4 linked regions of the Homo sapiens genome follow. The protein of the gene in region 3 interacts with the protein of the main gene of each other region in a pairwise test. Each region holds a gene or a part of one and is shown on either strand. Other genes may lie near its edges.

Region 1 (3,500 bases), on a different chromosome or scaffold from region 3:
GGTTGGGTTATAAAGGTGTCATTTCCTATTCTTTGCTGCATCTTGAACAGCTGACCATGGTGTGGTGTCCTTTGATAGTGTTGTTTGACAGACAAAGGGCTATCTGGCGATATGCTTGGCATTTTCCTGGGGAATGTAACTTTATGGACGTCTCAACTGAGGCTGACATGTCACAAGATATTGAGCATATTTTCAGGCACTTAGGATTGGTTTTAGAAATAAACAGATCTGCTTCTTACAGCTACTTCATCTGTTCCAGCTCCAAAGACAACAGGCCCTCCCTCTGCCCTCCCGTCTGTGAGCTCCCTGCCCAGCACCACCTCCTGCACTGCACTTCTGCCGTCCACATCCCAGCACACTGGCGACCTGACTAGCAGCCCTCTCTCTCAGCTTAGCAGGTATGGGGAAGGTGTGGGCCCAAAGTGAGAAGTACCTTGGGGCAAGTCCTGGAGCTCCTGTAGAAGGTTGCTTTCATGAACAGAGCACACTTGTTGTCTCTGACGTGATGTCCTGGGCTTTTGCATTACGACTGTAGCTTAGGTTTTGGCCAGGTTGTTCCTTAAAACCACCAGATATGGAAACCTTGCCTGCTTGTACCGCCTCTGCTGGCACAGAGCACTGGGTCCCCTGGGAGTAGGGTGAGGCCAGCAGCTCCCTCCTACCTGTCTTCACCCTCCAGAGGGTGCCTGAGCCTAGCCTCTCTGGGCATCGCTGGGCCCATGTCACTGAGGTGGAATGAGAATGATGGATTTCTGAGCAGGTGTCTGACTTGAACTTTCCATGGCTGAAGAAACGATGTTATTAGAACAAGGTGTAGGAAAATGGGTGGCGTTGCTACCTGTGTCTTCTGAGGAGTGTTCTCCATCACTCTTTAGCTAGGAGCAAAAGTGGATTTGATGGGAATTGGCATGTGGAGTTGAGCATAGGAACTTTGATCCCTCGTTCACAGATTGAATGGGATTGTCAAGGATGACCGTGTTCTTAGTGCAACTCTGTCTTCACTTTTCGCATCTGAGGAGCAAATGGATGTCGTTGAGGGAAGCTGGCTCTGGAGTTTTCCAGACCTCATGGCGAGTCATTCCCGTCCACCAGGACCCCATCACTGGGCTCTGTGGGGATAAGGAATGAGGATGGGTCTGAAGCCGGTCCTGTGCTAGGGACTATGATAAGTTTGAATCTAGCTCACTGACCCACGTGCGTCTTGTTCATCTGGAGTCACTTGTTCAGGTGGACATACGGCGCTCTGTTTTGTCTTCTAGTTCGCTCTCCAGCCACCAGAGCAGCCTCTCTGCACATGCAGCCCTCTCCTCGAGCACGTCACACACAGTAAGTGTCTGCGCGGCTTCCTCTTCCTCCGCCATGCTTGGGGAGCCTGGAGCTTAGTCACATGCAGCTGGGGCTTCAGTCTGATTTTTAGTGTCTGATAATCTAGAGTTGCTTGGCTGAAATGTCTTGATGGCATGATCTGGTTCGAGCTTCTGATTTCCTGGGCACCATCTGGGGACATCTTGCTTTCTAAGTTTGTAGCGCCTGGGAAGAATCATTGCTCCAGACCTTATCTGTCATTGGCAGGAGTGTCAGGTGGTGACCTTGCTCCCAGGAATTTGCTGTTTGATCTTTCCTCGTGCCTTCTTTCCTGACTCAGACGCAGAGATTGCAAGAAGGTCAATGTTGGAGAAGGGAGTCTAGATGGTGGAGGGCAGGAGTGGAAGCAAACATGCACTGCCGAGAAGCCAGGCAGGAGGGCTGGAGTCGGCGCGCCAGCTTTAATTTTCCTCATATGCCAAAGAGTAGCCCTAGATTATGGTTATTGAGGTGTGGCTCAGTGGGTCGTGGAGCCGTGAGCATGGCTTTCAGTGGTAGGAGTCAGCCAGATTGTGGTGGGTTGCGGAGTGAATGGTAGTGAGATGGAGAGGAGGGAGGAGGATTGTAGAGGGCATGCAATGAAAACTTAAGAGAGGCTGGAGCCTCTATTGGGAGGATAGAAAGGTGCCTGGATTAACAAAAAGTGCATGCTCCTGGACAACAGGAGGTGTTGGGCGAGGTTGGAGTAGGCAGGTCCACAGGCTGGGAGGAAGGATTAGGGTGCAGACGAATGGAGGAGGCAGGAAACTGATGAACTTGGTGTCCTCTGAAGAAGACAGCAGCTCACCAGCAGAGTGAGGTGGTGGAAAAGGGACATCCTGTCCTTTCCTCTGGATCTGGCTAATGCTGTGGCTTTCATACTCTAGTGTTCCAAGTCAAACCTTACACAGAATCTTTTATCATAAAACACACAAACTGCCACTTTCAAAGGAGAGCATAGTGTGGACACCTCTGCCTGTCCCTCTGCCCCTGCCCTCTGTGGCTCATGGGAGTGGTGAGCTGACCTCAGCAGGAGTGCCGTGGAGCTGTCCTCTGTGTCCGTGCCACTGCTGCCTGGGAGCCCAGTGCTCCTGCACTCATGGGGAGCTGCACTCTCCATCTCCTCAAAAAAAAACCTCCAGACCATGTATTCCAGCCTGCCACAGCCAGAATCGTCTCATCCAGTGGGTCCCATACTTTGTCAGCATGACAGAACTGTGACATTGCTAATACAGTTGTCCCTCCATATATGCAGGGGATTCATTCCAGGACCACTGCATACACCAAAATCTGCACATTCTCAAGTCCCACAGTTGCCCCTGTGGAACCCACCTATAGGAAAAGTCAGCCTTCCAAATATGGGTGTTTTCAAATTATGTATGCGTGCATTGGGTTGAAAAAGAAATCTGCCTGTAAGTGGACCCATGCATTTCAAGCCTGTGTTGTTCAGGGGTCAACTGTTTGTTCATAATATTTCATCTGAAAAGTTATGGAAAGATAGACAATGAAAAGTTTTTCTGTCTCTCATCTACTTGGCTCTACCCTTACATTTTCTCCATCCTTTTAATAAATAAAAGTCAAAACACGCAGTGCATACATGTAGTCATTTCCCCATTATCATCCGCTTTTTTTTTTTTTTTTTTTTTTTGAGATGCAGTCTCACTCTGTCGCCTAGGCTGGAGTGCAATGGCGCAATCTCAGCTCACTGCAACCTCCACTTCCCGGGTTCAAGCGATCCTCCTGCCTCAGTCTCCTGAGTAGCTGGGGTTACAGGCGCATACCACCATGCCCGGATAATTTTTGTATTTTTAGTAGAGACGGGATTTCACTATGTTGGTCAGACTGGTCTCAAACTCCTGACCTCGTAATCCACCCGCCTCGGCCTCCCAAAGTGGTGGGATTACAGGCGTGAACCACCGCGCCCGGCCATCATCTGCCCTTTTTATTCTTTTTCTCTTGTTACATAAATGAGAGTATTTTATGTACAGTGTCCTTCAACTTTTTTTTCCCCACTTGTGTATCCCCACAAGTGTATCTTGATGTTTCCATGTTGAAACTTAAGGGTTTTTTGTTGTTGTTGTTGTTGTTTCCCCACAGTTCTGCTTTATGATGTTATTTAAGGTTATTTAAGCAGCCGTCCATTTAGGGTCGTTTTC
Region 2 (3,500 bases), on a different chromosome or scaffold from region 3:
TACATTCCCCAGCCAGAAGACTTAGAATCCATGCTTGAGCCAAAGCCTCCATTAAAACCACTGCCCGACCCTGCATTGGATGCTGATCCCCAACCAATTGCTGCACCAGAATTAGAGCCACTATAAGAGTTATTTCCAGAACCGAAGGCCTGGTTTGGCTCCCTCTGCATGTTGCCTTGGTTTTGGTTATTACCCGATGGGCCTGACTGGTTCTGCTGGCTGGCTAACATGCCCATCATACCCCAACTGCTCTGTAGTGCTGCCTGGGCGGCAGCCATCATGGCTGGATTAATGCTGAACGCACCAAAGTTCATCCCACCACCCATATTACTACCTTGATTGTTTCCCAAACCAGCTCCACCCCCTCTGCTATTACCAAATCCACCCTGATTCCCAAAGCCACCTGGATTACCACCAAATCTTCCACTTCTTTCTAACTGTCTATTGCTATTGTGCTTAGGTTCGGCATTGGATATATGAACGCTGATTCCTTTAATGATCAAGTCCTCTCCACAAAGAGACTGCGCAATCTATAAGAAATAAGGGATGTAAACAAAGAAGATTAAACCACTGATTCATATATTTAAAGTAGCAACAAAACTTAGATTACAAGCATTAATTTATCTAAAGCCAGAGGAAAAATAAGCAATGAACACTCATTTCATTTAAACCCCCAATACAGCTTTTAGTTTTATTAACAGCAGCAGTGATATTTCAGTCGATTTTCAAAAGACATAGGCTGGGCATGGTGGCTCATGCCTGTAATCCTAGCGCTTTGGGAGGCCAAGGTGGGAGGACTGTGTGAGGCCAATAGTTCAAGACTAGCCTGGCAGCCTAGACAACACAGGGAGACCCCACCTCTATCAAAAAAAACCACAAAAAAGCCACATTAGCTGGGCGTAGTGGCATGCATCTGTCCTAGCTACTTGGGAGGCTGAAGCTGGAGGATCCTCCCCCTGGAGGCTGAGCCCAGGAGTTCTAGGGTGTAGTGAGCTATGATTACACCACTGTGTTCCACCAGCCTGGGCAACAGAGTGAGACCCTGTCTCAAAATAATAATTTAAAAAATGGGCCGGGAGCAGGAGCAGTGGCTCACGCCTGTAATCCCAGCACTTTGGGAGGCTGAGGGGGGTGGATCACCTGAGGTCAGGAGTTCAAGACCAGCCAGATCAAAACAGTGAAACCCCGTTATCTACTAAAGATACAAAAAACTGGCCAGGCGTGGTGGCTCATGCCTGTAATCCCAGCACTTTGGGAGGCTGAGATGGGCAGATCACCTGAGGTCAGGAGTTCGAGACCAGCCTGGCCAACATGGTGAAACCCTGTCTCTACTAAAAGCACAAAAAAATCAGCCAGGCGTGGTGGCAGGCACCTGTAATCCCAGCTACTCAGGAGGCTGAGCCAAGACAATCGCTTGAACCCATGAGGTGGAGGATGCAGCGAGCCAAGATCGCGCCATCACACTCCAGCCCGGGCAACAAGAGCAAAACTCTGTCTCAAAAAAAAAAAAAAAGTATATAACATTCCCAAATGCCACATACTGAAAATTATCTAAAGGCATATTTACTTTTAGATTTCTTAAAATGTTGTATTTGTGATATCAGATACAGGTATCACAAACATCTAGGCCCATACACCCTACGTCTTACAAGGTCAGAAAACTTAGCTAAGAATAGCAATTAGCTGCATGGGCAATGTTCAAGAGAAATTACCTAATTACCTGGGACATATTTTTTTTTTTGAGACAGAGTCTCACTCTGTCACTGGGCTGGAATGCAGTGGTGTGATCTCAGTTCACTGCCACCTCCGCCTCCTGGGTTCAAGCGATTCCCCTGCCTCAGGCTCCAGAGTAGCTGGGACCACAGGCGTGCACCACCACACCGAGCTATTTTTTTTTTTTTTTGTATTTTAATAGAGACGGGGTTTCACCATGTTGGCCAGGATGGTCTTGATCTCCTGACCTCGTGATCCACCCGCCTCGGCCTCCAAAGTGCTGGGATTGTAAGCATGAGCCACCACGCCCGGCCGGGACATATCGTTAAGGAGAAAAATACCTGATCATCTGCAAATGTAACAAAGGCAAAGGCCCTGAATGGCTTGGGGATGAAGACATCCATCACATCCCCGTACTGAGAGAAGAACTCCCGCAGCTCATCCTCAGTCATGTCCTCTGTACAGCGCCCCACAAACACTTTTCTGCTTCTCAAAGGCTCATCTTGGCTTTGCTGATCAAATCAAAAGGAAGAAAAAAACTCAGAAATATGTTATGAACAATGAAAAAAACATTAAGGTAAGGGATATAACAAAATCATTCGCCTTGGATAGCAGTGAACCATTAAAAAGTAGACGTACCCTTAATTTTTTCCATCAGCATTTCTTTTTCTTGTAAGGCTTCAGTGAAGAGTAACGTTTTAAGTTACAAAAGTACACAGTCATGCATCACATAATGATGGATATAAATACATCATGAGCCATTACACAATTTCATCATCGTGGCCAGGTGTGGTGGCTGACACCTGTAATCCCAGCACTTTGAGAGGCCGAGGCGGGTGGATCACTTGAGGTCAGGAGTTCAAACCAGCCTGGTCAACATGGTGAAACCCCACCTCTACTAATACAAAAATCAGCCGGGTGTGGTGGCAGGCACCTGTAATCCCAGCATCTTGGGAGGCTGAGGTAGGAGAATCACTTGAACCCGGAAGAGGAGGTTGCAGTGAGCCAAGATTGCACCATTGCACTCCAGCCTGAGCAATAAGAGTGAAACTCCATCTCAAAAAAAAAAAAAAAGGGCCAGGTGCGGTGGCTCACACCTGTAATCCCAGCACTTTGGGAGCCCGAGATGGGCGGATCATGAAGTCAGGAGATCAAGACCATCCTGGCTAACACGGTGAAACCCCATCTCTACTAAAAATACAAAAAATTAGCCAGGCGTGTTGGTGGGCACCTGTAGTCCCAGCTACTCGGCAGGCTGAGGCAGGAGAACGACGTGAACCCGGGAGGCAGAGCTTGCAGTGAGCTGAGATTGCACCACTGCACTCCAGCCCGGATGACAGAGTGAGACTCTCTCTCTCAAAAAAAAAAAGTCGTTGTGCAAACATCATATAAACCCAGATAGCATAGCCTACCCCACATCTAGGCTAGATGGTATAGCCTATTGCTCCCAGGCCACAAACTTTCAAGTTACTGTACTCAACACTGTAGGCGACTATAACATGATGGTAAGTATTTGTGTATCTAAACATAGAAAGGGTACAGTAAAAACAGTGTTATAATCCTATGGGACCACTGCTGTACACGAGGTCTGCTGCTGACTGATCAACTTTGCCATGTGATACATGACTGTGTTTGGATTTGAGAAAATTAATAAATAAGCAATCTCTTGGCAAAGATGATGATGTTCCAAATAAGCCAATGTTATTTGTTTGCTTGGAAAAAGTTAGGTCTTTATAACAATTAATGTATGTATTCTGATTCTCTTTATGTTTTAACATATAACTATG
Region 3 (6,037 bases):
GGCTCTCCTAAATAGAAGGTTCCAACCAATCTCACCAGGCCAAAGGGGATTTTCACGTACAGACTTTGAATTTAGTAGGCCCTGAGCGTTCATCTTCATCCGTCCTTCTCAGCCGGAGCACCTTGAGCTGGCGCGTGTTCAGGTGCCTCTGAGTCTGTACTCCAAATTATGTTGGGCGCACCTTCAGCCTATGAGGGAAATGCCCCGTACTGAGCTTTGGTTCTTGTTCTATTTTAACACTGTTTAGAACAGTAATTAGGTTTTTAAATATCCTTCCTGACCCAGAGCCTTCCTATGCAACAGAAAGATTCGTTTATTCCAGAAAGGACTCTTCAGATTGAAACCACCTCCCAAACTAAAAACAAACAAACAAACAAATTCCCCAAAGGAAGGGTCGCTTGGATTCCAGATCACCATTTTGAAATGTTACCTGTGTGACTACCAAGGAGTCACTTAAAGTTTAAAATAGTGGTGGTGGGGAGGAGGGATTTTAAGTAGGGGCTCGCTAAAGTTTTACAACTCTATTCATTCTGGCATTTTAAGAATCTCTCTCTAATGAAAAAAGCTCCATGCTCAAGCTCATGCTCCTACTTTCAAGCATTTGTTTCCTTTATTTTCTGGAAAGTGACATGGTCCATAGTTCCAGCATGATTCCGAAAATCTCATGATGTGTGTCTCTTTCTTCTAACCTGGATCTTTTACATTTTCCCCACACTCCTCACTTAGGGGAGTCCTCCTGATCTCTTCTTCCTCTAAAATTATAGTCCTGCCATCTTGCAATTCAGCATGACACATCATGAAATTAGACCCTTAATGTCTGTCTTTATATTCAATATCCAATATCTCCAAAGTGTTATTTGGGATAAATGGTATGGTGTTTATATGATTACCATATTAAAGTGAAGTGGAAGCTTTTTCATCCTACTCTATAAAGTCAAAAACAGTTATCCTAGGTGCCCTACTCCCTGTTCCTCAAACCATTAACAATGGAACACACAGGAGTCCCCAGGTGCCTCTCTATGGAAAGGACCCTAACCTATGTGAAATTGCAAACAAGTGTCCATGGACAGCAATGAGCAGCCTTCCTGAGGTCTTGGAGAGATGAGTGTGGAAGGAAACCCCAGGAAGAACTATGTGGTGAGGCCACATTTCTTAGATAGGGGTCTGAGCCCCTTCTCCAGAAAAAGCGTCTCTTTACTTTCTGCCCCACCCAACAACCACAGGCCCAACCCCATTCAGCCACAAGACAGAGGTATTTATAACCGTTTTTCTTTATTCTACTTAGTGGGGCACCCAGAAACTTCCCTGGGGGAAATGCTTGTTCAAATAGAGAACACGCAGAAGATGCACTTCACCGGCCTCCTCTGGCTGCTGAGCCCGTACTCTCTCTTTGGCTCAGGCTAGGCCTCTTCTTCTCCTTGGACTTAACGTGGCTTAGGTCCCTGAGTCGGCCAAGACCTCCCAGAGGAGACCTGCCCAGCTGCCACCACCACCATTATTGATTGGCTTCCCGGTACTGGTGCAGCAGGTCACTGACATCTGTACTTTCTACTTTCACCCAACCATCTTCCTTCATGTGGTACACTGTGGACAAATGAGAAAAGAACATGGAGTCACCTTTCACCTCAGCAAGTTCCTGTCACTGATGTTATGTTGAAGGCAGCAACAAGACACATGCGCAAGCTTAAAACCATATGACTGGGCCTTTAATGCCCTTCTTCTGACTCTGAAAATTTCCTCCCTACTACTCTCCCTCCTTTGAGTCTCTCAATCATTTTCTTTTTTTTCTTTTGAGAAGGAGTCTCACTCTGTGGCCCAGACTGGAATGCAGTGGCGCCATCTTGGCTCACTGCAAGCTCCACCTCCCAGGTTCAAGTGATTCTCCTGCCTCAGCCTCCCAAGTAGCTGGGACTACAGGCACCCGTCACCACGTCCGGCTAATTTTTGTAGTTTTAGTAGAGACGGGGTTTCGCCATGTTGGCCAGGCTGGTTTCTCAATCTTAAATCACCCCCCCCACCACCCGCCGACTCCTCCCAGGCATGGTGGTGGGAGCATTGGTCTCTTACTATTGACAACGCCTCCAGAATAGCTGTCTCTGTGAGTGGCATAAGCAATAGCCCTGCGGCCAAGGTCATAGGCCTCTTCAGGGCTAAGATTAGGCCGATAGCCACTGTCCATGACCCCGTAGGCATAAGTGTTCCCACTACCCGTGGAGAACATATTTCCTGAGAGCCGAGTCCCATGTTCATCCACGTAGTAGAGTCCAGGACCCTATAAGATGAAAGATTTCAGGCTGAAATTGGAGAGGAAGATGTTGGTAACATGGGGGTTCAAATATGAGACATAAAAAGTGAACAAAAGAATTAATATTACCACAAGAACATTGGAATTAGGAAACCACTTTGGTAAAGTCATCGAACTTTAGAAATGAAAAAGGAAAAACAAACTTGAAATCAACTGTTTAACAAAAGGGACAAGCTTACAAAACACATGCAATGATTCATATCTGGGCCAATAAATAGTCCATGGATATACTGAAACAGTTCTATAACCAAGCACTCTATATGCCATGCATCTTGTCAGGGAGGGAGTAGGAGTATATGATGGGAAACAGATCTGTCATCCATAGGGAACATGGTGGGGGAACATGAAGAATGGAGAGCACCCACCTTCTTATCCCAGCCACAGATCATACTGCCCATAGAGAGGCCCATGCCCCGGTACTGGCACATCATGTTGGACAGCAGCTTGGAGGCTGCCGACACTGAAATACGTTCTCCATTTCGCAGATAGTACAGCCTGGGTGAGGACAAGGTGGAGTGAGGAAAGAGAGGTTAGCTCTTTCCAACTTGATGGGGCAGGAAATGATTAAAGAGATAAGCATTGGAAAGGAATTATTTTGTAGGATCTAAAGATCAGAGAAAGATTTGGAATTTAAAGTATCTGAAACATACAAAGGCAGCCTAGTAAATGATACTGTCCCGCCAGGGTGGATGTGTCAGTGCTAAATACCTGACGTACTATCTGGCTTATGAGTGGAGCACAGGCTGAGATTTGGGAGAAGGGTCTTATCACCAAAAAGCTGTTTTGTGAAATATACTATTAGCACTAAGATGGACCACATAGGACAAGAGTAAGGAGCAATGATCTGAGAGATCCAGGGATTAACCACTAGGCTAAGAAAGGAAGATGAGAGGCCTCGCTTACCTGCATTCCTTGGCCAGCAGGCGCTCCCAGTACTGACAGTCTGCTGCACAGCCAGACATGGTGCCAAGCAGGTAAGGGTTAATCTCAATCACCTTGTTCACCCGTAAGGCACCTGGAAGAAGATGGAGCTTTGGGAGAGAAGGGATGACCCCATAGATCCCCCAGTGTGTCCTAAATCAATATCCACTTCCACTTTGTTGCAGAGTTGGCCTCCTGTGGAAAGGAGAGCCCAGCTCCCCAGATTCTGCCTGCTGGAGCGTATACACTCACTAATGTAGGACCCAGCTGAGGCCCGAGAATCCACTGCTGCAATCACTCCATGCTGGAACTTGAAGGCGAGCGTGGTGGTGCCATGGGCCATCTCAATCTGAACGTTCCTTTCTCCGTCCCCACCCAGGGACTGGAAGAATTCTGTGGGCTGATAAGAGAAAAGAGGTTGAGAAAGGCAATGAAAAATTCTGTAGTAAGAGGCTCCAGGAAAAGGTTTTAGGGAGTATGAGGGTGAGGAGATATGCAGAAATGATCTAACCATCAATAAATGAAACAGTTAATAACCAATCTCTAGAAGGAAATGGCTTGGGAGAAGGAAAAGAAGAGGCATGCCAGTATCAACCTTTTCCATTTTCCAGCACAACAGAAATGAAAGCAAGCACATGTTACCATTACTAAAAAATTTTGAGAGTGACTTAAAGGGTTTCTTCCATGCATAAAGCATTCAACCCTCACAAAACACGTTTAGTAACAGTATCCTCACTTTACAGAAGAGGGGCTTGGGACCTAGACTAAGTGACTTGTTCTAAGTCGCGCAACAGTGAGTTGCTGAGAGGAGGCCAGCAGGCAAATTTCATAGGTTTCCCAAGACACCACACACCTCCTATATCATGTGATAACCCCATGAAAAAGGCTCCACCATTTGTGTGTGGACAAGGGCAGGAAAGTTCTCTTGTCTTCCTTTGGGAGCCCCCACCTCACCTGTAACTCTTTGTCCTAACTTGCACTTCCTCCTCTCAGGCCCCATCCCCATGTGGCCTCTTCTTTGGGTCTGGCGCTCTCCGGGACTGAAGGCTACCCCCGACCCTGTACCCCGCGCTCCCGCTCTCGCCTCCTCCTCTCAGGCGACCCTCCACTCCTCAGCGCCCGCCTCCCTGCATCCCTAGGGGCTTCCCTACTGCCCCGACCTGCATTCCCCGGGGTAAAGCGAGCTCTGGAGATCGCATAGAGAAACTGTAGTGTCCTGGGTCCGAGCGACGCCCGCTTCCCGCAACCGGGAGAGCCGATTCCGGCCGCTGCCCTCGGGGGGCTCCGCATACATCTAGTAGCGCCATGACCGCCCAGCACCCAGAGATCTGTCCGCTCTCGGAGGAGGAAGTGAAAGCGAAAGCCACAGATCGAAGGGGAGGGAACAAGACTCTTTTCCACATCCCCCTGCCTTTTCCGAGAAAAGGACAGTTAGTGCCTGGACCAGGACCATCACACTGGGGACCGGCTTCTCTGCTCTCCCGTTATGGGGGTCGGGGGAATGATGGGTCAAGGGTCTTCCGAAGAAAGCGAGAAAGGAACAGGCGCCTTCAAAAGCCCACTTGGCGATGGGTTACAGTAAGAGGTACCTCCAGGCCCGGGCATCCGCTGGAAACAGGGGTGGGTAGGGTCGTGTCATCTAAAGGCGCAGCTTCAACCAGAAGACTAGAAGTCAGCCAGGAGCTGGGAGTAGTGTCACGCGGGGTGGGGGTTCCTATGAGCATCACTTTACAAAACCAGGAGGGACGGAAGTGCGAGGGGGCAGAGTCTTGGAAACAGGTCCTGGGCCAACTGCAACAGAATATACCCGCCGCGTGTAGGGGAAGGCGGCGCCAGGGAGAGGGCGCAGTCTCTGAATCTTTCCACGGGGTCCATCCTAGGGCCCCTCCAGGTTCAACGGTCTCCTAACCTGTAGTCACCCACAAGAGCGTGCCCTTTCTGCCCGCCCTTCCTAGCGTTGCTCCCTGCTTGGCTGAGCACTGCGGAGTTTCACGCCTCTAAACCCCGCCTCTTCTTGCAACCTGTGTTGGCCTCATCTACCCAGCAACTGTCGACGTCACACGACCTGGGCCTCCCTGAATGGGAGATATTTACTAGGCAATCCCGCCTACTGTTCTGAGGTTTCCCCTCCAGGTGCAGCTTCAGAGCCAGGCGAGCCAGGAAGGACCAGCGGGCGAGGTGGTGAGTTGTGAGGCGCGCCCAGTCCCTCTGTTCCCGCCTGGCACTTGCTCTGGCCGCGCCCGCCCCATCTGCCACTTCGGAGAGGCCACGGCTCTGAGCTGCGGCCGCTAGTGCCCTGATGGGCCCTGTGGCTGGGGTCTTGCACATTCTTGGGGGTGGGCCTAAGGGGATAGGGGAAGTGGAAGGGGCCTCATAGGAATTAAAAAGCTTAAGGGAAAAGGTGATGCAGTTAGGGGGTAAAACATTGAGGATGATAAAAGAGGAGACATCCGCAGCTGAAAAGTGCGCTGCAAAAGGCAGTGGGCCGTTTGGTGTGCCGGAAACATAAGAAACCACAGTACAAAACACCAATTTTATTATAAATATCAAGAACCTACAGGGTGTTTATGGGCCAGCATATGCCTTCAGTTATGTTGAAAATAGCTGATCATCTTTCCGTACATTCTGAACATTTCTCAGTTTCAGAGTGCTGGCCACACCAAAGCATCAGCCCTGGCTCTAAACTCCGTTACAGTAAGGAATTACAAATCCTGTGTTTGTACTCCAGGAAGTCTGCATTATCACGAGGAGCTTGGAAAGGAGGTAACACACTCAAGGCAAATTTCAAGTAACTCATCCTGGAGGCAGCTG
Region 4 (3,500 bases), about 16 Mb from region 3:
AGTATGTAAATGCATCTCCCCAGACAGTGAAAGGAGCCTGACAATCCTGCTGGTGTTTATTGTGAACAGATCAACAAGTATTTGGTACTTGTTAGAAACCTTTCAGAGCTCACTAAAGCAACATTTCTTTTGCAGTCTGGTGCCTTTGGCCTTGCAGTCAGTCACTTAACCCTTTCAAGTGTGAAGAGCGTTCATCATTTGGAACCTCCATTGCCCATAGCGATGGCTGGATTTCTAAAGGGTTTACTCAGGGGAATAACTTATTCGGAAAATATATTCCCATTGTCACATTTTAAAACTTGACAGCCATCATAACAAAAACTGGTACTGACAGTAGGCAGACATTCTGAATGTATTCATTCTTAATTTGGATCTATTGGCTGTGATTTGAATGATCTTTGGTAGTAAGTTAAAAGGATTTTTTTTTCCTTAGCTAAGCGAGAAACGATAGAGGCCTATAGCTAGAGGACTGATAGTGCATGGTGCTTTTGGACAATAAACATGTACTTTATTTTAGGATGTAATTTAGTGAGCAGTTAGAAAGCAGTATTCTAGTCTTTGCATTAGGGCACCACTGATAAAGCTGGCTAAGCAAAGAGAAATAATATTATGGCAAAAAGGAAAAAAGGAAAAGTTGCTTTAGTTGCTGAAGCTCTGTGCTGCTCAGGCAATCCAACTAAGTGGGGCAGGGGGCGGGCGGGGGGGAGTATTTTCATAACCCTGGTATTTGAAAGAAAAGATAATTGAGAATTATGTCTTGATTTAGTTGTGACTGCCAGTCAGTTTACAATTTTATGGCCAACAAAGCTAAACTGGTAAATTTTTTCCCCCAGGGCTAGGATTGAGAGAGCTACTCAACTCTATTCCCAGGGGGTTTATGAGTTTTTACCGTTTTGTGAGTTTATGTGGTTGGTAAATTCATTGTGGCCTGGTCAGATGAAGCACTGCTGTAGTTAAAATGAGCTATTATTTCTTCTAGCTACTCAACTTTTATAAGGTGGTAAATAGATGGGAAGCAAGGATGTCAATATTACACAATGCCTTGGAGGTCCTGGATTCTATTTTGCAACATATAGAAAAATGCTTTACTTGCAGTAAAATGTGAACATATATTTTTCAGTGCACAAATAAATTCATGTGAAAATAAGTATAAAAAAATGTACCTGGTGGGAACCGCCAAAGGCAATATTTTTCCTTGCGGATTTCGTTTTAAGAGGGTTTGGTAAACAGAAGTGACACTTTGTCAAAAATGTTACGACTAGACTTCAGGACTTCTGAATTGTCTTTTACACTTAGAGGAAGATTAAACAGAAACTCTTTAGCCACAAGATTACATGTCAAATGCCTGTAAGTTTCAACATACCTAAGTCAGTTGCCTAGGAGTCCTGGGAAAGGCCAGTGCTGAGATTATTGAAATATTAGTAAACATTACTATGACTCCTGTTTTTGTTGTCATTATGGAGTCCAAGGACGCACATTTCTTTGAATAATGTTGTGCCTTTATTGTTTTTCATTCTGAAATGTCAAGTGGATTTTACTTTTTTGCACATACCTTGAGTGACAGTTTCTGATGACTAACACTAACACTCATTTTGTTTCCTATTAAAAGTTAAGCAATAAACATATTTTACTAAAATTCTGAAACTCACGTAAGTAGGTAAATGTGGGAGTGAATGTTAATTCTTTAAACTGTAGTTATCTGAAAATAACACATAGATTAGGATCTGAACAGCTTAAATACTTGCATCGGTAAAGTGACAATAGTGAAGTAAGACAGGCTATTATTTTTAGGGGAGAGATAGATTATTTGACTTTCCTTGCTCTGTATTTTCAGAGTAATTCAATAGTTCGAATGATTAGTTTCTGTGAGAGATTTAGATCTGTGCAGCTTAATTGCTTCAAATAACAGATTTAGTTCTGGTCATACTTCCAAGGTTATCAGAAGCAGGCCCTCCTTATTTTGATAAAAGCATTGAAAGCAATACATTGTAGAAATGGTAATAGAAATAATAATTTCTGTTTTAGGACCTTACATATAGAACTTCCTTTTCTAAGATAAGAATTTTAAGTCATCAATTATGTTCACATTTTATTTTCATGTAATTTAGTTTAATAAAATAAATGTACTCATTCAAAATTTTTTTAAGAAGTGATATACAGTGTCAGTTTTACAGAATTTTTTAAATGTTGGCTGAAAGAACGGTAATTACATTGAGATTTTTAAAAATATATAAATGCTTAAAATTACAGAAGTAATAAAAAGAATGGTTTTAGACAAATCTTATGGAAAGTTTTTTATTTTATTCTTTTATAATTATATTTATGGATATTTGTCTTTATTAGTGTAGTAATATATTTTATAACGCTCATAATTTGAACTTTCAGGCTAATGTACTATAAATATTTGTATTACGCATTACTACCATCCCAAATGTACCAAAACACGTTTAGAGAGAACAATTATGGACAAAAAAGCAACAAGCATTATATTTTGTTTGACATATTTCATGTTAGCAGAAATGTTTCATTGATTTTTCTGTAACTTTTAATGCATCCCATTTGTGGAGTAATGAAAATGTAATGATAATTGCCACAATGTAAGCAAAAATTGTATCCTACCTGAAAATTACTTTCCAGAAAATTCATGGTAGTGTACTCAGAATTTGAGACTCAAGAGGGCAGAGGTTTCCCCGATTGTGATGTTTTGATTTGGGCTAAGAGGAACTCTTTTTTTTTTTTTTTACACTTAGGTGCCCTTTAACATGACAAGTTTTGAATGAGTTAGGTAGCAGAAGTTTTTCGTGACAGTTATTGTAGCTACTAACCTATAGCATCTATCCTTCTAACGTTCAAAGAAAATATATTTTTCTGTCACTGTGTATGGCAAACTTTATTTTCTTGTGCCCTTAATTTTGTTCCCCTTTCTCACATTATCTCCTGGTACTTACTGACCATTACCTCAGTTTTGTTTAGGCCGTCTTTCTTGTTAATCTTCCAATATTAATAGTATTGTATTATGTTGCTCTGCTGGGTTTTAAAAATATTGAGTATTCCATTTTTGGTGTATATTATTGTATAAAATGTCCTATAAATTATTTTCTGGTATATTATTTTGTAAGTTTTTGCAGTGAATACGTGCTGCCTTGCTTGTATTCTTGCCTTCTTCCCTCTGATGGAATACAAGTTATGTAAACTCTCTGTATTATCCTAACTAGTGCAGCAACACAAATACTTTTGAAATAAGAAAGCATACTCATGCAAGAGTAAAGTAATCTTCTATGGCATTTACATCATGTTTGACCCTCCTCTGCACTTCAGCAAACTAGGAGGAGGTTGTAACTTGGACTCTATAAAACCTTATCTGCCAGGTGATATGTAAACAGGATTGTGTGCACACACATTGTCATATAGGCAAACACTCTCCCAACTGGTGAGCTCATAAAAAGCACTGTCTGTAAATTTATGGTACCTGCACCTCATTTGAGAATCAAGTATTTTGA

What was found. The genes of interacting proteins can lie anywhere in the genome.
Region 1: the proteins of PSMB8 (region 3) and UBAP2 interact in binary tests that used the Homo sapiens proteins (3 or more experiments, as listed by UniProt).
Region 2: the proteins of PSMB8 (region 3) and TARDBP interact in binary tests that used the Homo sapiens proteins (3 or more experiments, as listed by UniProt).
Region 4: the proteins of PSMB8 (region 3) and ATXN1 interact in binary tests that used the Homo sapiens proteins (3 or more experiments, as listed by UniProt).

The regions. Positions count from the first base shown.
Region 1 is NC_000009.12:33,930,388-33,933,887, reverse strand, and holds part of UBAP2 (ubiquitin-associated protein 2), read left to right. Parts: intron 1-259; coding exon 260-398; intron 399-1,259; coding exon 1,260-1,326; intron 1,327-3,500. UniProt on the Homo sapiens protein: Recruits the ubiquitination machinery to RNA polymerase II for polyubiquitination, removal and degradation, when the transcription-coupled nucleotide excision repair (TC-NER) machinery fails to resolve DNA damage. May promote the degradation of ANXA2.
Region 2 is NC_000001.11:11,019,154-11,022,653, reverse strand, and holds part of TARDBP (TAR DNA-binding protein 43), read right to left. Parts: intron 2,226-3,500; coding exon 2,055-2,225; intron 531-2,054; coding exon 1-530. UniProt on the Homo sapiens protein: RNA-binding protein that is involved in various steps of RNA biogenesis and processing.
Region 3 is NC_000006.12:32,839,464-32,845,500, forward strand, and holds PSMB8 (proteasome subunit beta type-8 isoform E2 precursor), read right to left. Parts: upstream 4,585-6,037; 5' UTR 4,534-4,584; coding exon 4,387-4,533; intron 3,627-4,386; coding exon 3,479-3,626; intron 3,321-3,478; coding exon 3,209-3,320; intron 2,801-3,208; coding exon 2,671-2,800; intron 2,273-2,670; coding exon 2,068-2,272; intron 1,585-2,067; coding exon 1,496-1,584; 3' UTR 1,254-1,495; downstream 1-1,253. UniProt on the Homo sapiens protein: The proteasome is a multicatalytic proteinase complex which is characterized by its ability to cleave peptides with Arg, Phe, Tyr, Leu, and Glu adjacent to the leaving group at neutral or slightly basic pH.
Region 4 is NC_000006.12:16,754,961-16,758,460, reverse strand, and holds part of ATXN1 (ataxin-1), read left to right. Parts: intron 1-3,500. UniProt on the Homo sapiens protein: Chromatin-binding factor that repress Notch signaling in the absence of Notch intracellular domain by acting as a CBF1 corepressor. Binds to the HEY promoter and might assist, along with NCOR2, RBPJ-mediated repression. Binds RNA in vitro.